Linked DNA regions of Homo sapiens. The protein of the gene in region 3 purifies or fractionates together with the protein of the main gene of each other region. This does not show direct contact. Each region holds a gene or a part of one and is shown on either strand. Other genes may lie near its edges.

Region 1 (6,856 bases), on a different chromosome or scaffold from region 3:
TGGCGTGATTTCGGCTCACTGCAACCTCAGCCTCCTGGGCTTCAAGTGATTCTCCTGCCTCAGCCTCCCGAGTAGCTGGGATTACAGGTGTCCGCCATCACATACCTGGCTAATTTTTGTAATTTTAGTAGAGATGGGGTTTCAGCATGTTGGCCAGGCTGGTTTTGAACTCCTGGCCTCAAATGATCCACCAGCCTTGGCTTCCCAAAGTGCTGGGAATACAGGCGTGAGCCACCACGCCTGGCCCACTTTTTAAAAAGTTGAAACCTGTCACCTAAAAGAAGGGAAGGAGAAAGAGTGGATTTCACACCTAGGGCCTCCATTTGCTTTATGAAAACAGCCCCTTGTCATTTGGGTCGTCAAAAGATGTCTGAGGGCACTAATACGCTTAAAGGATCAGCCAGGAAATAGGGGCCTCTCAGGTGACAAGGAGGCACAACCCTAACCAACCCCGATCTGTTCTCAGCTTCACAGGAGGCCCTGTTTTGAGAGGTGCATGAACATGTGGCTCACGTTCAACAACAAACACTCAGGAGAGGGGACAGAATGTTCAGGACACACCGGTGAGAGCAAAGGAAGCTGCTGCTGGGCTGGGGCTGCTGGGAAGTCTGAGAGGTTCTGTAGCAGGACACTCACTCGCTGGTGGCTGTCCCCGGGTGTCACCTAAAACCGCCAGGTCAGAAGCACCTTTTCTCCGGTTGGCTCAGGAAAACTGACAGACTCAGGGATGGAATTTTTTTCTTTTCAGAATTTCCAAGACGTACAGATCTCTCCAAGCATCCCAAAAGGCGTATGTTCCTGGTGGGGCCGAGGGCCTGCTCTTGGAGACAGATGGCGAGCAGCGGTCAGCAGCTACTGAGAGCTCAACTTCCCCTCTAGAGACAGGCTCTGCCGCTCAAGTCCACCTGGGTCTTGGCTCTCTGAATCCTGTCCGAGGGTGGCGAACTTGAGGCCCTCCTCCCTGCCCCCAGTGTCTCACCTCTGGGCAGTGCTGCCCACCCTCCTTCCTACCTCGAGTGAAGAGACAGGGGCAGGTGGCCAGCCAGGGGGGTGTTCAGTGACCTCACGGGTCCAGCATGCACAGGGCCTGGCCCCACAGCCCAGCACCCCTCCCCACCTGGCCTTCACAGTTTCTTCTGCACCTGGTGACAGGTGACATTCACCTGCACGACACTCCCGCGAACCTGGTGACGGACTGGCAGCTCGGTGAATTCCAGCTGAGTGCCTGTGATTCCACCCCCTTACCTCCCACTCAAGTGACAATGTAAGCGTGACCTCGAACTTGACCTCGTTTGTATCTATTCCTCTCCCAGTCACATTCCTGTCAGCCCTCACCATCCACCCAGACCGGGTTACAGAACACACAGGTGAGCCTGGGGCCGCAGGTTTCAAAAACTCACTTTATTCCAATGTGAAATGAGGACGTGATGGTTTAAAAACAAGAAAAAGTTCTTGCTCAGCGGTGGGGATGCTCTGCTTGCCCGCTCACGCCCATCCCCCTTGAAACAAGGTGTCTGGACGGACCACACCCATAAGCGGCTCTCCGCAAACCCAGGCAGACGCCCGTCTCCTCCGGGTCTCAGGGTGGCCACATCCTCCCCCACCAGGGCTCTGACAGCAGGCACAGAGCAGCAGCACGGGCAGGGTGGAGCGGGAGCAGCGTGTGGGGGCCCCCGCCACCCCCAGAGCTAGTCTCAGACCAGGAAGGGAGCTGGGCACCAGAGAAGCGACATCACGTCGGCACCTGTAACTCCCGGGATCCGTAATTGGGCCCCGCTTCCCCCAGCCTCGCCCCCGGCCCACTGTGCGTTCGGCAGCTCAGGTTAAAACTGAGGGGAGGGATACATTCAGACCGCAGGCCCCAAGGCTGCGCCCAGCTGGGTGCAGGGAGTAGGGAGCCGAGTCAGAGCCACCCACTGGGCTCTGAGGGCCCAGCAAGCCAACCCCGACCCCTCCGTTCGGGAGCAGCAGCCAGACCACGCCAGTCACAACGGCGGCTCCCGTCCCGCCCCAAACTAAAGTGCACCCCAGCCCTCCAGCCCCGCCACAGAGCTCCGGCTCCCCACCCCTCCCCACCGGGTTTTTCGGCCTAAACCCTGAACTTTCAGACAGGCTGGGCCCGGGGGTGGTGGCAGCCAAAGCAGCAGCCATCATGTCGACCATACAAATGACCTGAGAAATCCCGTCTGCGCGTCACCCACTCAGGAGTCACCCACTCAGGACTGGCTCGGGCTATGTACAGGGGAGAGGAACGGTCAACACTCACAGCCAGGGGCGCACTCGCACACGCCGGCCGGACGGCGGGGGCCGAAGCAACACCTGCCCCCCAGCCGGGAACTGATGGCCGCACACGCCATTCACGTGTCTCCAATGGGGCCTCTGCATCATCTATTCATTGAACCAGCGCAAAAACACCTTCTGCGGGGCAGGCAGGCCAGGCTCCCAGGAGGACACGGGGGTGGGGTGGGGTGAGACGTGGAGGAAGAGGGCCTTGCTTCCTCTTCCGCCCGCAGGCTCGCCCCCTTCTCCCGCAGTCGGGCTCCCTGGTGACGGGGCCGCTGGCTGGCTGTCCGTCTGGCTCCCTCTCTATCCCTGCACGCTCGGAGAAGGGTCCTTGGCAGCCGGGGGCTGGGAGCCCAGGTCTCCTGGGGCCCCCGCTGGCGCGGGCTCGGTAGCCATGGGCTCCTCGGCTCTATCCCTGTTTCTGCTGGCCTCCTGGAGCTGGTGCCGCCGCGCCACCTCGGCTTTCAGATTCTCCAGGTCTTTTTGGCTGAGGATAAGGGTGGGGATGGAGGTGGCTCTCAGAGGAGTCCTGGGGGCTCCACCCGCCTCCCGGCTTTCCTGTGGGATAAGCTCAGGCTCTGCGCTCTATTCAGTGGGGAATGTGTGTGAACAAGCGCTTCCCTCCTGAAGGCGGAAGGTCCCTGAACACGGAGAAGGTAAGGACCCCGCACCTGACCCGGCCTCGGGGCTCCCCTCGCTGCCCTCGGTGGCCTCCCTCCAGCGCAGGGGGAGGAAAGCGGAGTTGGGGGGCTGCTGCCACGCCTTGCTGACCAAATCCACTCCCCACAGGAGGCCACACTGCTTGTGGCCACCCCGGGGAGCCCGGGGCCTGCTCCTCAGCCCCCCCCCGCCGCAGGATGGGAAGCGTGGGGAGGGAATGAAGCCGCTTCTTAGGGACTGGTGGGAAAACGCCAAGATACTTTGTGTGAAGCAGAAACACCAAGGTCTTCACTCGCGGAATGCGAGGATGCTGGGGAAGATAAGCGGGGCGGGCCGGGCGCGATGGCTCACGCCTGGAATCCCAGCACTCTGAGAGGCCGAGGCGGGCGGATCGCAAGGTTAAGAGTTCGAGACCAGCCTGGTCAACGTGGTGAAACCCCATCTCTACTACAAACACAAAAATGAGCCGGGCGAGGTGGCGGACACCTGTAATCCCAGCTACTGGGGAGGCTGAGGCAGGAGAATCGCTGAACCCGGGAGGCGGAGGCTGCAGTGAGCCGGGATGGCGCCGCCGCACTCCAGCCCGGGTGACAGGGCGAGACTCCGACTCACAAAAAACCCCCAACCGGGAGACACTCGAGTGGGGCGGAGGCCTCACCTGAGAGGAATGAAGAGGATGCCGTTAATGACGTTCAGCTGCTCCAAGACGCTGGCCATGCTGGGGGCCGTGAACTGCGGGGCGGGGAAACCAGCGGTGAGCGGGGCTCCCGCGCTCGCCGGGCCGGAGGGGCCGCTCCGCCCCGGACTCACCTTGAGGGGCGGGATGTTGGCGCTGGAGCCGTTGCGGTAGATCTCGTTCATGGTGCGCTGCAGGGCCACGGCCTGCTGGGTCAGGCACTTGAGGTACTCGGAGCTTTCCTTGGTCTTCTCATGGTCCTCGCCCAGCTGCGGGGAGGCGGGAAGGGATCAGGCCCCCCCGTGCCCCCGCGGCCCCGCCCCCGCCCCGCCACGCCCCCGCCCCGCCCCCGCCCCCGCCACGCCCCCGCCGCGCACCTGCGTCTTGTAGATGGTGTAACCCTCCTTCTCGTGCTGCAGGGCCGACCGGAACTCAGCTTTGCTCTCGTAGACTCGGGCGACAAGGTGGTGGCTGCCGGGAGGCGCGGCGCGGGGCGAGGGAAGGGCATAAGTGGGCTGGGTGTGGGGGCCTGACTCGGGGGCCCGGGGTCTCCCGTAGATCCCTCCCTGGAAGCCACCGAGGGGAACAGCAAGTCCAGGGCTCAGGGAAGAGGGGGAGGTCGAGAGAAATTTTCTCGGGTGGAGGAAGACAGGAGCACTGGGTCTCTTCCCCGCCCCCGCCGGCTGCCCCGCAGGCCTCCGCCGGCCTTGGCGTTTGGACGGGCGGCCCCTCACCTGAGGGCCACCTTGAGGGCCTTGGGCCCGTGGTACTTGGTGCTGACGGCCAGCGCGTTCTCCAGGAAGCGCAGCGACAGGTCGTACTCCATCACCCCGTGCAGCACCAGCCCGATGTTGTTCTGGGGGCAGGCGGTGGGGGGCCCTGGTCAGCTCCCGGTCCCCTGGGATGGAGCTGGGTCCCTGCCGCCCCCCCGCCCCAGCACTCACGTCCAGCAGCGCCATCTCGGGGTGGTCTTCCCCGAACACCAGCAGCATGAGGTAGCGGGCGCGGTACAGCAGGCTCAGGGCGGTGGACAGCTGGCTGCTGGCGAAGCAGTACAGGGCCAGGTGCATCTGCGGGCGGGGCGGAGACAGGTCAGGGTGGCCGCGGACCCAGCCCCTCGCATCCCCCGGCGCGGGCGGCACTCGCGACTCACGTATTCCTGGATGGTGTTGGGGTGCTCGGTGCCCATCACCCGCTCGCTCATCAGCACCGCCTTCTGCTGGTTACTCAGGGCCTGGGGAGAGACAGTGGTGGTTGCCGCGGCGTGGGAACCCCCACTGCACCCAGAGCCCGCCTGGCCCCGGCCCAGCAGCCCACGGTGCCGCTCTGCAGGCTCCTGTCCCCTCCGGCTGCGCCCAGCACAGTGCAGCAGGGGGGAGGGGGATCAGCAGCAGCTGCTGCCACACCTTGAAGGGCAGGTCACGCTCCACAGAGAGCTCCACACACCCATGTCTTACACCCAACAAAATCTCCACAAACACCCAAATACAAACCTAAAACTACTAAAAATGTTACAAAAAAAAAAAAAAAGCCTGAGCAGGGGTGGGTCCCTTGAGGTCAGGAGTTTGAGACCATCCTGGCCAACATGATGAAACCCCATCTCTACTAAAAATACAAAAATTAGCTGGGTGTGCTGGCTCACGCCTGTAATCCCAGCTACTCGGGAGGCTGAGGTGGGAGAATCGCTTGAGCCCAGGAGGTTGAGGCTGCAGGGAGTCGATATCACGCCACTACACTCCAGCCTGGGTGACAAAGCAAGACCCTGTCTCAGAAACAAACAAACAAACAAACAACCCACCCATTTATAAACAGAAGAAAAAACAGTCCCTTTGCAGGGAGTAGGGATCCTAAGACATGCTAACCCTGAAACAGCCCTGGCCAGGCAGGGCACCCAGAACCCCACCACAGCCTCCACCAGCCCCGGCCAGGCAGGGCACCCAGAACCCCACAGCCTGCACTGGGCACAGAGGACGTGGGAGCTCGGTGGCATGCTTCCTGCCCACTCACGGAGTCTCAGGAGGCGTCCTTGCTGACGCCCTGTGGGGGGGTCCCCTGCCATCGCCTCCCAGAACTGACCTCACCGCAGCACAGGGTGCTCCTGAGCTCTCCCGCTCGGGACACAGTTACAGAGGGGTGGAGCCAGGGGTGGCCTGGGCAGAACCAGCGACTTCCTGGGGTCTCCCTGGACTCCACCCACTCCTCCGTCAGGGGCCCCCTCACTCCCCATCCCCCAACACGAGGCCAGGCCTTTGCTGCCACAGCCCAGAGGGTACCTCTGCGTAGTCGCCCATGATGTAGTGGAGGCGGGCGAGGAGGCGCAGGCAGGCGCAGGTCTCCACGTGCATGGCTCCGTAGACGTTGTTAAACAGGTTCAGGGCCTCATTGATGAGCTCACAGCCCTCCTTCAGGAAGCCTGCAGGGCACCCCCAGGGGTGGCAAGGTCAGGACGGGCCATGGGGAACCCCCACCTCCACCCAGCCCCACCTGGCCACACACCCTGCTGCACTTTGGCCTGCCCGCTCTGGAAGAAATGGAAGGCATCCGAGGCCTTGGGGTTGACGTGCTTGACCACGGGGAAGATGTTGAGCACGTCCTCCTCGGTGAACGCGGGCTTGTGGCGACTGTCGAAGCTGTACTCCTTCAGCAGGACCTGGGGGGCAGCCCCCCCACCACAGGAAGCCTCAGGCCCAGGTTCAGCGGGTTGGCACCTCCCAACCCACCAACGCTTGCGCACAGACGGCTACCGTGAAAAAGCCACTTCCCCTGTGGCCCTGGCCAGGAGTGGGAGCCTGCAGCAGGGACGCAGCGGGGACACAGCGGGGACACAGCGGGGATGCTGTGAGCCATGCCCACCTGGATCCCTGTTTTCAGCGAGATCTCCCGCAGGAGCGTTATCTTCTGCAGGCCGTAGGTCTCCACAGCCTGGTCCACGGTCTCACTGAGGAGGGAGCAGGGGGCCTGAGCAGCCCAAGCACCGCCGGGCCCCCCCAACACCGCCCCACCCAGCTCCCCAACGCTGTCCAGCCCGGGCCCCCAACACTGCCCCACCCGGCCCCCGGGAGCCTCCCGGCTGCCCTCACCCTCCAGCACCCAGTGATCTCCACAGCTGCTCCCTCTTCTCTCTGACTCCCTGGCCTATGACCACAGGCCTTAGACGCCATCTGGGAGCAGGTGGTGGCCGCCTCATCTGCCCAATCCCACCCACCCCACCGCCCCTGCCCCGCACGCACCACTCGA
Region 2 (7,995 bases), on a different chromosome or scaffold from region 3:
CAACACTCTGTATCTAACTAACCTGGTGGGGATGTGGAGAACCTTTGTGTCTAGCTCAGGGATTGTAAACGCACCAATCAGTGCCCTGTCAAACCACTCGGCTCTACCAATCAGCAGGATGTGGGTGGGGCCAGATAAGAGAATAAAAGCAGGCTGCCCGAGCCAGCAGTGGCAACCCGCTCAGGTCCCCTTCCACACTGTGGAAGCTTTGTTCTTTCGCTCTTTGCAATACATCTTGCTACTGCTCACTCTTTGGGTCCACACTGCTTTTATGAGCTGTAACACTCACCACAAAGGTCTGTAGCTTCACTCCTGAGCCAGCGAGACCACGAACTCACCAGAAGGAAGAAACTCCAAACACATCCGAACATCAGAAGAAACAAACTCCAGACGCACCACCTTAAGAGCTGTAACACTCACTGTGAGGGTCCATGGCTTCATTCTTGAAGTCAGTGAGACCAAGAACCCACCAATTCCGGACACACAACCGGCCATGTGACAGGCTCAGGGAAGGACATGTGACTCAAGGCAGGCCAGTGAAGTGCAATTCTAGGTTAGACTGGCCGGGAAGGAGCGGCCGTGTTTTCTGTTGATGGATGCTGCTGCCCTCTCCTCAACCTCTCACGCTCTGCACTACAGACAACCTCCTTGGGGCTGAGGCCAGCACAGCGCAAAGCACAGCAAGAGGGGAGCCCGAGCCCCTGGATCCAGCCATCCTCCACGGCAAGCTCAGACCACCCGCTCCCTCAGCTCTTTCACAGAACCCTGGTCTACCTAGTTGATGTCTTATATAATTCCACTATTATCTGTGATTAATTAATGTGGAACCACATGATTATCTGTGTGACCTGGTCTGAGGTCTCCCCTAGACTGAGCACCCCCTCTGGACGGCAGGTGAGCATCTGACCGGTCCACAGCTGTGGCCCCCACACAGCAGCTGGCACACACAGGGGCTCTGCATGTTAGACTCCTGCAGTAACACCCAGGGGCATGGGTGCGCCTTACTCCTCTCTGGGATCCCGGAGCCCAGCACAGCGTCAGCCAGGCACAGCAGAGAGAACAGGAGGTGCAGGCTGAGACAGGGCAGTGCAGTGCCTAAGAGTCTGGGCTGTGGAGTCTGAGAGCTCTGGTTCCAATCCCAGCGTGGGGCCCTTAGGCAAGGTGTCTCTCCTCCCTGAAAGCAGTCTCACCAGCCAGAGACAGTGTTGGCCCTGCCTTATGGGCTGTTGTGAGGGTGAGATGAATTGACTCCAAGTACTTGGCACCCAGGAAGTGTCCATTGCTGTGGGGCATGGCGTGACTGGAAGGAGGAGCCCCAGCCAGCGACCTGGAGTGGTCTGCCCAAGGTCAAGGCCCCAGTACAGCAGAAGCAAGAGCTCTAGAGCTGTCAAAGACCTTTATTCAGTCCTGGAGTGGAGCTGGCCTGACAGGGTGAAGCCAGGGGCTGCTTAGGGCGGGCCAGACCCTCAGCCCCTGAGCAGGTCAGGCCGGCCAGGCGGGGCTGGTAGGTACCAGGTGCCAGCAGCTGCAGGGCAAACTCAGTGATGACAGCTGTGAGGCCCCAGACCCGGTGTGGTCCATGCAGGAAGACGGGTAGTGTGTAGCGGAAGTGGCCACCCCGGCAGAAGTGGGTATAGCCCTGATTCTGCGTCTGCAGCAGGTGGGCCAGCGGCAGTGCAAACACCTCATCTACCTGCAGGCAGGAGGCAGAGAGGGTAGACAGAGGACTGGAACAGCCCAACCCCCTCATATCCCCCAGCTCACCTCCTCCGAGTTGGGCCTGAGGCTCTGGGGATCCAGTGGGCCTACACCAGCAAGCACTGGCACCACGGTGGCCTTTTGCTGGGGAAGAGGGCAGGTGGTCAGGGAAGCATGGCCTTCGCTGGGTTTGAAGGCTGGGGAGGGGAGTGTGAGAGGAAGACCCCTTTGCCATGCATAGGCCTTTGGTAGTCATGTTCGGGTCCACCTGCCTGTGTCCTCCAGCCATGCTGACTGACTCAGGTCCCCTCAAATGCACTAGACCTGTTCCCTCTGCTTAGGACAATCTCCCACTTGGCATTCAAGCCTGGGTTCAATCCCTGCCTACCCCATGAAGCTTCCCTGACCCTAATCCACCAAACTGAGTGGAGCTGGCCCACCCCATCGCCCTGGGCCACCTCTACTCAGGACACCAGAGCCTCCCCAATCCCTTCCCGAGGGGGTGTGTGGGGTGGTGCATGTGACCAGGCAGGTTAGGGGCACCCTTCCACACTTTGTGCCCGTGGGGGTCCATGACCACTCTCCTGGTCCCTGGTAGCCCAGCTCCAGGGCAGGCACAGAGTGAGTGAATGGGGTGGGGTGGCCTCAGCCAAGTGGCTTACCGGATCATACACAGGCCGCAGCAGGCCCCACACGTGCTCCTCGGGCACTGCCAGGCCCAGCTCCTCCCGGGTTTCCCGCAGGGCCGTGTGCACCACATCTTGGTCAGCCGGGTCGCACTTGCCGCCTGGGAAACTAAACAGACACAAGGAGTCTGGTCCTTGGACTCTTGGGGCCACGGAGAGGTCGGGGTATCGGCAGTGCGGGGGGGGCCACTGGCCCACCGAAGTGTCGCCTGCCTCTGCCCCTAGTTTACTGGGAGGCCCCAGGCAAGCCATGCGACCTCTGGAGGCCAGTTTACCTCCCTGAGCAATGGGGATAAGGAAGAGAGGCCCGGGACAGCGCAGGATAAGAGGGTCTGCAGCAGGGGCAAGAAGATCCTGGGGCTCAGATACCCAAATTCGGCCTATGGTGGCCCCAGCAACACTGACATTGTCCTCAGGATGTTCTTAATTCCCGCCGGGCGGGGCCCGAACCTCTCCGTAGTCGCCGGCAGGGGGCGGCGTCCGCCCTCTAAGCGGGAAACAGCTCAAAGGGGTGTCCCGGCCCAGGCGTGCGCGCAAGGACGCGTACGAGGGGCCCACGCGGCGAGGACGTGGCGCCCCGGCAGGTGCACCGGGGCCGACGGACACGGATCGCTGACCTCTCGCTGCAGCCCTTGGGCGGAGGGACTCTCCCCAGACCCATTTTACGGAGGCGGAAACCGAGGCTCGAAGGGGCTAAGTGCCCTGCCAGAGGTCCCTGCCAGCCCCGGGCTCCTGTAGCCTCCGGCAAAGGGCGAGGAGTTCCCGGCCGCTGTACCTGACGTCGCCCTTGTGCCTCCCGGTCAGGCGGCTGGACCGCAGCGTGTACAGCAGCGCCGGGACCCCACGCACTGAGCAGAGCGGCACGAGCACCGCGGCCGACGCGGGCCGCGCGCGGAGCCGGGCCGTGGCCCCTGCCAGCAGCCGGCGGCAGCGCAGCTCGCCCTCGGCCGACAGGCAGTCGGGCAGCATGTCAAGTCCTGCGCGGCCGGGACACTGAGGGCGCGGGATCGGGCGAGGGAAGAGGCGGGGCGAGGCGGGGCGGGGCGCTCAGCCCGGGTCCCTCCGAAAGCTGAGAGGGAGAAGGGGCAGCCCGCGCGACGCGTCCCGCCTGGGGGGCTGCAGAGCGGCAGCGGCGTCGGGGGGCCTCAGTGGGGTGGGTCTGTTCGTGGGCGGGGCCTTCCCGGAGACGGGGCCTCGGTGGGACTGGGTCTGTTCGGGGGCGGGGCCTGTTTGAAGGCGGGTCCTCGGTGGGACGGGGTCCGTTAGGGGGCGGGGCCTGTTTGAAGGCGGGGCCTCGGTGGGACGCGTTGAGTCCCCCGGATGGGAGGGACGGAGGGCGGCGGGGCGGGGCGGGGCGGGGCCTGCGCGGGAGCCGGACTCGGACGTTACTGCCAAAGGGCGGCGGGGCCTAGTAGGCAATCGAGGTTGGGGCGGGCTGGGGGCGGGGCCTGGACCGGAGCTTTTGCTACGAAGGACTGGGGGGCGTGGCCAGGAGGACTGTGCTTCCGGCAGGGCCGGGCCGTGGCCGGGGGTGTGGCCGCGGGGAGGGAGATGGGCGCGGAGCTGCAGGACCTGCCGGTTGTGTTCTCCGAGATCCTGAAACCACGCGAACCGTGAAGCGCCCGGCGACCGTCCTCGGTCCCGTTGGGTCCTGGCGTTGGGGTGTCTGATGAGGCCCCGCCGGCCCCCACTGGTCCGTCCCTCCCCTAGGGGCTCCAGGATGTACGGAGCCGGGATCCCACGGGGACGCCCCTCCAGGAACCCGAGGTCGATCGGTGCGCGAGAGGAGCGTCCGGCCCAGCCCTCCCTCCGGTCCTCCCTCCCGATACCGCTGGGTGGCGCGCGCCGCCCCCAGTCTTGTCTTCCCCTCTGGCTCCGTCGGACTCCAGCCCCAGGCCTTTGACCTCCTTGTCCCAGCGTCCAGAGCTCTTCTCCCTTCCTGCCTTGAGTCTTGACCGGATTCCCAAATCCCTCCCCCTTTCCTACCTCGGCCCCTGTGGTCACTGACCACCGTGGTTCTGCGCCCTTCCACCAGACCCTGGGCTTGGGGACCAGATGACCCCAGCCTTGCGCACAGCATTTAAACGTGGGGTGGCGGGTGTCCGCCATGCTCTGCTGTGTGACGTTGAGCAGGTCCCGCGCCTCTCTGAGCGCCAGTTTCGATCCTCATCTGGGCAAGTGCAGCCCTGCCACTGGGCTGGAGTCACCACTTTTAATATTACTGTGTGCTCCCAGGGATGCGGACGGCACTGGGCAGAGCTTCGGGATGCCTACAGGGCTGATGTGGGGACTATGATGGGTCTGGGAGTTCCTGAGGCCCCCACCCACCCTGACCACGACGACAGAAGTGCTCTGACCACTCATGCCAAATAGTTTAATGTTAGGGGGAAGGGAGAGGTAAGGCAGGGTTTTCGGGAGTTACCCCCAAAGCAAGAGGGCACAGTATTCAGGCTGCTGGGGTTGGGAGATAGAAGTCCTGGTTCCAAGCTTGCCATGGTCCCAGCCTTGCTGTGACCCTGGGCAGGTAGCCTCTTTCTCTAGACTTTCACCTACCCTGCTCTCCTTGAGACAGAGATGGGGCTGGAGGGGGCGGGGCAGAGGCTGATTCCCACACCCGGTGTAAGGTCCAGGGTAGCAGGGCTTCCCCCCAGGGCTTCTGGCATCACTGGGAGTCCTGGCCAGGCCCCAGGCACACCACAGTGGGGGACAGGAGCCCCAGCCCAGCTGGGAGAGGCAGGCCTCCTTGATCCCTATCAGCCCGGATGTTGGGGAGGGGGTATGGTGCTGGTCGGGTCCTTGGGATCCCTAGGTGGCTCGGGGCTCCAGAGTACAGGCTCTGATACGTGACAGGCCTGTAGGTGGCCGGGGCCAGCAGGACCTCAGGTGGGGGCAGCAGCTGATGATGGAGCCAAGCAGGGGTCTTGGAGGTGGAAGCTGAAGCTTTGTTGGGGTCTGAGGGAGGAAATGAGTGGACTCTGGGCCTCCCATCGCATCCTCATCCCTCATCCCAGGCCTGCCCTGGTCCCTTCCTGCTCCTCCTTCCCAAGTTACCTACCTCTCAGCCTTCGCCTTTGCTTTTCCCTCTGCCTGGAATTTCTTCTTCACCTTCTCCCTCTGTCCAAACCCTTCCCAGTCCTCCAAGGCCCAGCTTGAGAGCCACCTCCTGCAGGAAGCCTGCCTGGCACCCCCTGCCTGTGCTCTTTGCCCTGAGCCCCATATTGTCTTAGGCATGTCTGCTTCCCCCTCCGTGTGTCCACACAGGGGCCCTGTGGGTTCGCTGAGCTGCTGAAGCCCCTTCCTGGAGGTCCTGTCCCTTTGCCTTCCGCCCACTGTGTACACCTTAGTCCCACTATGTCTGCAGGCCTGGGGCCTTACCTTTCTCCCTGTCTGTGGCACCCTTCAGCACACAGGGACTGAGGCTGCTGTGACTCCGGGCTGGGACACTGAGCAGGGGCCGTGGGGCCACAGGCCTGAAAGAGCAAGCGAGAATGGGGGGAGGGGATCAAGGGGAAGAACCCAGGCCAGGGATCATGGCCAGCTTCAGATGGTGGGGCCCCAGGATGGGTCAGAGGGTGTGACCCTGAAACAAGGGTCAGGAACTGAGGCCTTAGGATATGCCTGGGGTGGGGGTGAGGGGCTAGGGTCAGGGTCAGACAGTACCAGGAGTCCAGGTCACTCTCTCTAAAGCCTTTGGCAAAAGGGTTGCTGGCGATTTTCAGCTGGGTGATCTGCAGGAGACAAAGTGCAGTTGTGGGCTGGCCATGAGCCAGGCTCAGCCACCTTGTCCTCCCGGGAACCGGCAGTCAGGAGGCCCTGGCACCTGGGCCTCTTGGCCCAGGAACTCTGAGCTGATAGGAGTGCGGGCAGGGCCTTGACTGATGGCAGATACTCAGGGCAAGTTGGGAGGGCAGTAGTCTGTGCCAGTGAGGGCTGCAAGCCTCAGGGCTCAGTCTCCACCCCTGTGAAATGGGCCTGCAGCGGGTGCTCCCGAGCTGGTTCACCCACCCTGTGGTTCTGATAGGCTGTCACTGCTGTGAACTGGGTCTCTGTGAAGATGAAGGACTTGAAGTTCTCCTGGGCATAGCGCTCACTGTCCTTGCGTGGGTCCACGAAGACCACGTGGAAACGGGGCTGGTAGCGGTGCATAGAGTTGAGAATGATCTGTGGAAGGGACAGAGCAGGGGTACAGGGGTGAGGCGGAGTACAGCGGACTCCCTGAGGCTGGAGTCCTTCCCTCCAAGCCGGGAGACTGCCCTGGGCCTGCCACCCTGTTCCTTTCATGGCAGCACAGGGTCTGAGCTGGAGAGGCTGCAGTTCCGTGTCAAAGGCCCCTTTGGATCATGGATCCTTGCCTCCATGTCCTCTCACACCCCACATCCCAGCTGCCACCCACTGCCTGTGTGCTGGCCCGTCACTGTCGCGTTCACCAGTTTCCTCGGTTGCCTCCTGGCCTGTCCCCTGTCCCCGCCTTACCCCTCTGTTCCTTCTCCACACAGCTGCCCGGGAAGCCACATCATATGCCCCCTGCTCCTAACCGTCCAGCGACTTCCACCCCACACGGTAAAAGCCAGAGCCCCCCGAAGTCAGCCCGACCCCTCAGGCATTCGCCTCCTTGGCTTCCCCTCCTGGCTCCACTCCGGCCCCATGGATGCGTCTTGCAATTCTGCCGGCCCAGGATTCTCTGGCCTCAGGGCCTTTGCACCTACTGTCCCCTCTGACGGGCATGGGCCGCTGCATCCTCCACCTCCTTCAGGTCTTCAGCTCCCTGCGCCCCCTGAGAGCAGCAGCACCCTTTCTCCGCCCCCCTTCCGTACCTCTGCTTCCTCTTTGGCATTTGTCCCTATCTGAGACGCTGGGGACAGTGTCTTCTGGACCCTGCCTTTGCCCCAGGAAGTGACCTCTGTGAGGGCAGGGATCGTTGGCTGTTTGACCAAGTGTTAATGATGCTGTGTCCACACATAAAGCGGGCCCGGCCTAGGCTGGGCGTTCCATACCTTGTCCTCCCTCTCCTTGCGGGGGACAACGTATGCTGGAACATTCCCCCGCCCCCACCCCCTTTTCCACCTGCCTGGACAGCCCTTCCTGCTGTGCCACCCCCAGCCAGGTGAGCTCGCCACCCCGGCTCCCCGCCCTGCCTTGACCATCAGCAGCAGGCAGAGGTGCTGGGCACCAAGGCCATTGGACACCAAAGTCCCTACCAGCCCTGACCCCAGGCCCTTCCGTCCCCACCGTGGCCCCGGCCTCACGTGGCCATTGTCATCCAGCAGGTTGTTGGTCAGCTTGAGCTTGTCAAAGGACACAATCTGGCGCATCCACTGGGCACCCTTGGCTGGCGAGTCGGGGTGGAAGTGCACGCGGCCAGGTGTGGCTGGGTCTGCCTTGCCCGCCACCAGCCAGGCCGAGCTGTGGAAGGCATACCTGGGGAGCACAGCGAGGTGGTGAGGGCTTCCCCAACCAGAGTCACGCCTGAACAATACAGGCGGGGTGAAGGGGCTGCTGCCGACTCCAACACTGCTCACCCCACCTGGTGGGCACCTTGCTAAGGAACCCAAGGCTCAAGAGAATCCTGTTGAGACCTGAGTTCCCTGTGGCTGCACCTGGCTGGTGGATG
Region 3 (5,137 bases):
GGGAATGGAGAGAACCTTTGTTGGCCTCGGCTTCCAAACCACAGACACCGAGGGCTAATTGGTAGCAGTTTCTAGAATGTCCTCGGGCTACTCGGTAGGTGGAGCAGGACTGTGCTTCACCGGAATCTTCAGAAGCTCAACCCCAGGCCTGACGCGTGTGGCGCCGGAGCTCTGCGTTCACTGTGCAGCTGAACATCAGGGGCTGCGTGCTGCCGGGAGCTTCTGTCCCAGGTGTGGTTAACACTAGGATGTTTCTAACAGGAAGTCCACTGTTAGAACAGACACCATCGTCCTCCGGCTCCGGCCCTCCAATCCCACCAGGTGGGCAGCAAGCTGACGCTTCCCACATGGGCAAATTCAAGCAGTCACCGTCGCTGGAGTGTGTGTGTTGTAAAGGCACCAGGTCTTACAGAAACTACAACAGCCAGAGGACAGTAAGAGGCTAAGAGGAGTAAAGCTTACAAGTTTAATTTCCTGAAAATATCCACTCCCTCTCCCATCGGTCCTGCAAAGAGGCTGCACCTCTCAGCTACTCAAAAGACAGGACCAGAGACGTTCTCTCCTCCTGACAAAACTGTGCCACACAGCTCTGTGCAGCCCACGGAGTCACACATGTAGGAAGCTACCCTTGGACTACAGGCAGCACCGCAGGTGGCCCATGCAGGTTCCCAGGCCCGACCTCCCCACACCCCTTGGAGCTCCCGAGGTTTCTATGGGTGTTTGAGAACCACGTTACAAGTTTTAACTTGTACACGTTTTTTGCTTGTTTTTGTTTCTTTTTTTGAGACGGAGTTTCACTCTTGTTGCCCAGGCTGGAGTGCAGTGGCGCGATCTTGGCTCACGGCAACCTCCGCCTCCCGGGTTCAAGCGATTCTCCTGCCTCAGCCTCCCAAGTAGCTGGGATTACAGGCATGCGCCACCACGCTCAGCTCATTTTGTATTTTCGATAGAGACGGGGTTTCTCCATGTTGGTCCGGCTGGTCTCAAACTCCCGACCTCAGGTGATCCGCCCGCCTCGGCCTCCCAGCGTGCTGGGATTAGAGGCGTGAGCCACCGCGCCCGGCCTCTTGTACAAGTTTTTACACCACATGAAAGGCTACCCCGTAGCCGCTATTCCCTAAGCCATGCGGCCTTTCGGATCTCTGGAAACACCCACATCTGCGGCCGTTCCTCGGCTTGGCGGTGCTCCCCACCTCTAAGGCACCTGCAGGCTTCGCTGCCGGTCACCATTACCCCCCGTCACCCCACCCCATGCATGCTGCGACACCCCTGACATCAGCACGTCGCACGAGAACAGGCTTCAAGACACGGGGTCAAACCGGACGACTGACAGGGAGGAAGGCCTCCATGTTAGAAAAGCTGCCAATTCAGACAGCCCTTAAGAACCGCCCCTCCCCAGGCGAGAAGGAAAACACCGTGCTAAGAAAGATGCCAGCTCTTTATTACCAGGGAAGCTGTGTGCACGCGCGTGGAGCGCGCTCCTTGGAGCTGACCGGGCCCTTACCTTCTCCTGCTTGTCAGAGGTGAGTCCTGGTACCCAGCACGGTGGCCTCCGGGAGGCTTTGATAGGTCAGCCTTTGCTGCCTCCCAGCTCAGGGCTCCTCCAAGGAACCTGCGGGGCCCCATGTGCCCACAGCCCGAGGAGGGAAGCACCGACCGCCCTCCTCGTGGCACGCTGCACTCCAGCGCTGGGCACTTCACCTGCTTCCTGGCTTGCGGTGGTCAGGCTCGATACTGACTCCACTGATCGGCACATTGAGTTCCAAAAGAATGCAAACCGCGTGGGTGCTGTGGCGACATTGTTTGCACCGTTTATACAACCAGACAGCTTTTTAGACTAAATTCGTGTCCAAACTAACACGCACGGGAACGGGCTCCAGCTGCAGCTCCCTGGGTCTGTCAGGCCGGGGAGCGGTTCTACCGGAAGAGCCGGTACGTCCTGGGCAGGCGCCCGTCCTTACTCGACAGGGCGGTCTGGATGTGCTCATACGTGGGCAGGTCAGTCAGGTCACCCAGGGCGGCCACTGCCGGCTTCCCTCGGAGCATCTTAGAAGCGACTCTCTTCACATCTTCCGGCTTCACGTTGCCTAGTGCAGAGGGCAAACGCGTGTCACACGAGCGCGCCACGGCCCCCACGCTGAGGCTGCATCAGTAAACACACGGAGGGGGCGGCTGGTCTGTACCACTCACTCACGCTGTGCTGCTGATGGGGGCACCTGGGCCCAAAGGCAGCCACTGGGTGTAGCCAAGGGTGAGTCCACAAGTGACAGACGTTGAGTTCTCAGTAAATGGGGACATGGCAATGACTTAAAAATATAGGACAAAGCCACCCAAGAAGAGTTACACTTACAGAAGAGCGAGCTCCGTGTCTGATGAACTCACTTTAGGACGGCCTGCAGAAAAAACCCCCAGCCCCCGAGGGCCGCATGGACAGAAGGGTGGGGTGAGAGAAGGCCAAAGGGCTGCACCCAGGAACCCCAGGACAGGAGTGATAGGGTCCAGGTGGGTCTGTTTTCTACAGAAAACGAGGCCCGAGAGAGGCTGGACACTCGCTTGAGGATTTAAGCGGGGGCTCCTGAGGGAAGGACGAGGGCCCACACGGGACAGGGCAAGTGCCCGGGACTCCAGGCCTGGAAAGGAGATGCCCACAGGTGACACCATAAGCCCGAGCCACCCCAACGTAATAGGCAGCCTTGCCAGGTTTTAAGCCTGTCCCCCAGAAGAGTCCGATGCACATACAACTTGGCAGTTTCAGGAAATTCAGACCTCCTAAGGTCACTCATGGGGGCCCCGGAAACCTGGGGCTGAGACTCCTGCCCGAGAGCCAGCAACGGTACAGCGGCATTCCGAGCCACTGCTACTCCACGTACAATGTAGCAGTCCTCTACTGAGCCCTTCTCGCCTACTAACTTGAGTGCTCTTTAACAACTCTGGGCAGTAGTGACAGCCCCTCCCAGGGGTGCAGAGGGTGGGGTCACCTGCCAAGGAGGCAGCAGGTGCATGGTGGGGCCGGGAAGTGAGACCAGGTCTGCGACCCCACGACCCTGCCCTTGGCCGCCCCTGCTGAGGACAACTGGTGAAGGCCCCAGATTCTGGGTGTGATGGACATACCACAGGCCCACCACGGCCTGCGGGAGGGCGAGACGGCCTCCTCTGAGCCTGGCCGAGGCCTGCGGCAGCCCCTCACTACCCCTGCGGTACTCACGGATGAGCGTGCACAGCTCGTGCGGCAGCTTTCTGGAGCGAGTGGCCAGCACCTGCCTCCCCACATCCTCGAAGATCACAGGCCTGGATTCCAGGTTCATCATGAGCATTGATGTCAGCTGCGTCTTGGCTCGTTCCAGCTCCACCTGGGGCCAGGGTCCAGTCAGGTGAGCACACACCCGCCCCGTGCCACCTTCCACCCCCCACTCGAGCAATGGCAAAACGCCATCTCTGTGCCCAAAGCTGAACATAAGAAAGGGAAGGGCAGCCGGGCGCAGTGGCTCCCGCCTGTAATCCCAGCTCTTTGGGAGGCTGAGGCAGGCGGATCACGAGGTCAGGAGATTGAGACCATCCTGGCTAACAGAGTGAAACCCCTTCTCTACTAAAAATACAAAAAGAAATTAGCTGGGCGTGGTGGCGGGCGCCTGTAGTCCCAGCTGCTCAGGAAGCTGAGGCGGGAGAATGGCATGAACCCGGGAGGCGGAGCTTGCAGTGAGCCCAGATCGCACCACTGCACTCCAGCCTGGGCGACAGAGCAAGACTCTGTCTCAAAAAAAAAAAAAAAAAAAAAAACGGGAACCCAGGCCCAAGTCACAGGCAACCCTGCTGGTCTCCCCTTCAGGTTTTTTAGGGAAGGGCTGTGCTACGTGTTACCCGGCTTCTACCACACTTGAAATACAGGAGCAATGTGCCTCCCTTGAGTTCTTCATTGTCTGTGTGACATGCAGCGGGAGAAGGTAAAATAGTTAACTCCCAAATGCCAGGGCCCCAAAGTGGCCACACGGCAAAATCGGGGAAAACAAATGAAACACAGGTTCTGGGGCTTCCCCAGACGCCTCCGGCGCAGGGCCCAGGCAGCTGGTTTTAGCAAAGTCCCTGGGAGGTTCTGAGGGAGGCAGTGCGGGTCCTAGGCTGCCTTCAGACTGTCTCAGGGCACAGGCAGGGGTGCTGTGAGAAGGACATGCAGATCTAGGAGCCAGCATACTGAAAAACAAACACCAAAAACTGATGGGCCGCAGAGATGCTACACTTTTTTTTTTTTTTCTTAAATAGACACAGGGTCTTGCTATGTTGCCCAGGTCAGTCTTGAACTCCTGGGCTCAAGTGATCCTCCCACCTTGGTCTCCCAAAGTGCTGGGAAAACAGGCATAAGCCACCGGACCTGGCCTCTATACCATTTCTTTTAAGTAAAACAATTCTTAGGTCTTTTTGCAACTTTAGGCAAATACCTAAATACTTCATATTTATTTCAAGTTGACTTCACGTTAGTGGAGGACTGTTTTTCTAGCAGTGCACTAGTGGAACTGAAGCGTATTAATTTAACCACAACTTTATTTCTTGAATGCTTTTTTTCCTGGCCGGGCACGGTGGCTCACACCGGGATCCCAAAGTAATCCCAGCACTTTGGGAGGCCAAGGCAGGTGGATCACCTGAGGTCAGCAGTTCAAGACCGGTCTGGCCAACGTGGTGAAACCCTGTCTCTACTAAAAATACAAAAATTAGCCATGGGGCTGCGTGCAATGGCTCACACCTGTAATCCCAGCACTTTGGGAGGCCGAGATGGGCAGATGACTTGAGGTCAGGAGTTCAAGACCAGCCTGGCCAACATGGTGAAACCCCATCTCTACTAAAAATACAAAAAATTAGCCAGGTGTGGTGGTGGGTGCCTGTAATCCCAGCTACTCAGGAGGCTGAGGTAGGAGAATCACCTGAACCCGGGAGGCGGAGGTTGCAATGAGTTGAGATCATGCCACCGCACTCCAGCCTGGGCAACAGAGCAGGACTCCGTCTCAAAAAAAAAAAAAAAAAACAGAAAACAAAAAACAAAAAAATTAGCTAGGGTGGTGACACATGCCTGTAATCCCAGCTACTCAGGAGGCTAAGGTAGGAGAATCACCTGAACCCGGGAGGTGGAAGGATGCAGTGAGCTGAG

Evidence for each region. The genes of interacting proteins can lie anywhere in the genome.
Region 1: the proteins of PMPCA (region 3) and CLUH purify together in Homo sapiens (affinity purification with mass spectrometry; 2 studies listed by BioGRID and IntAct, with this or other methods). This does not show direct contact.
Region 2: the proteins of PMPCA (region 3) and NUDT8 purify together in Homo sapiens (affinity purification with mass spectrometry; 2 studies listed by BioGRID and IntAct, with this or other methods). This does not show direct contact.

What each region holds. Positions count from the first base shown.
Region 1 is NC_000017.11:2,688,008-2,694,863, forward strand, and holds the end of CLUH (clustered mitochondria protein homolog), read right to left. Parts: coding exon 6,850-6,856; intron 6,558-6,849; coding exon 6,473-6,557; intron 6,270-6,472; coding exon 6,116-6,269; intron 6,033-6,115; coding exon 5,893-6,032; intron 4,913-5,892; exon of another isoform or gene 4,854-4,912; coding exon 4,773-4,853; intron 4,690-4,772; coding exon 4,564-4,689; intron 4,476-4,563; coding exon 4,354-4,475; intron 4,091-4,353; coding exon 3,997-4,090; intron 3,889-3,996; coding exon 3,754-3,888; intron 3,676-3,753; coding exon 3,602-3,675; intron 2,771-3,601; coding exon 2,587-2,770; 3' UTR 1,380-2,586; downstream 1-1,379. UniProt on the Homo sapiens protein: mRNA-binding protein involved in proper cytoplasmic distribution of mitochondria.
Region 2 is NC_000011.10:67,626,559-67,634,553, forward strand, and holds NUDT8 (mitochondrial coenzyme A diphosphatase NUDT8), read right to left. Parts: upstream 3,380-7,995; 5' UTR 3,354-3,379; coding exon 3,160-3,353; intron 2,494-3,159; coding exon 2,361-2,493; intron 1,843-2,360; coding exon 1,765-1,842; coding exon of another isoform or gene 1,747-1,764; exon of another isoform or gene 1,694-1,746; coding exon 1,388-1,693; 3' UTR 1,380-1,387; downstream 1-1,379. Other genes in the region: T-box transcription factor TBX10, read right to left, coding at 5,047-5,336, 5,760-5,854, 6,045-6,112, 6,390-6,545, 7,631-7,802. UniProt on the Homo sapiens protein: Acyl-CoA diphosphatase that mediates the hydrolysis of a wide range of CoA and CoA esters yielding 3',5'-ADP and the corresponding 4'-phosphopantetheine derivative as products.
Region 3 is NC_000009.12:136,420,045-136,425,181, reverse strand, and holds the end of PMPCA (mitochondrial-processing peptidase subunit alpha isoform 1 precursor), read right to left. Parts: intron 3,351-5,137; coding exon 3,206-3,350; coding exon of another isoform or gene 2,922-3,205; exon of another isoform or gene 2,098-2,921; intron 2,088-2,097; coding exon 1,918-2,087; 3' UTR 1,421-1,917; downstream 1-1,420. UniProt on the Homo sapiens protein: Substrate recognition and binding subunit of the essential mitochondrial processing protease (MPP), which cleaves the mitochondrial sequence off newly imported precursors proteins.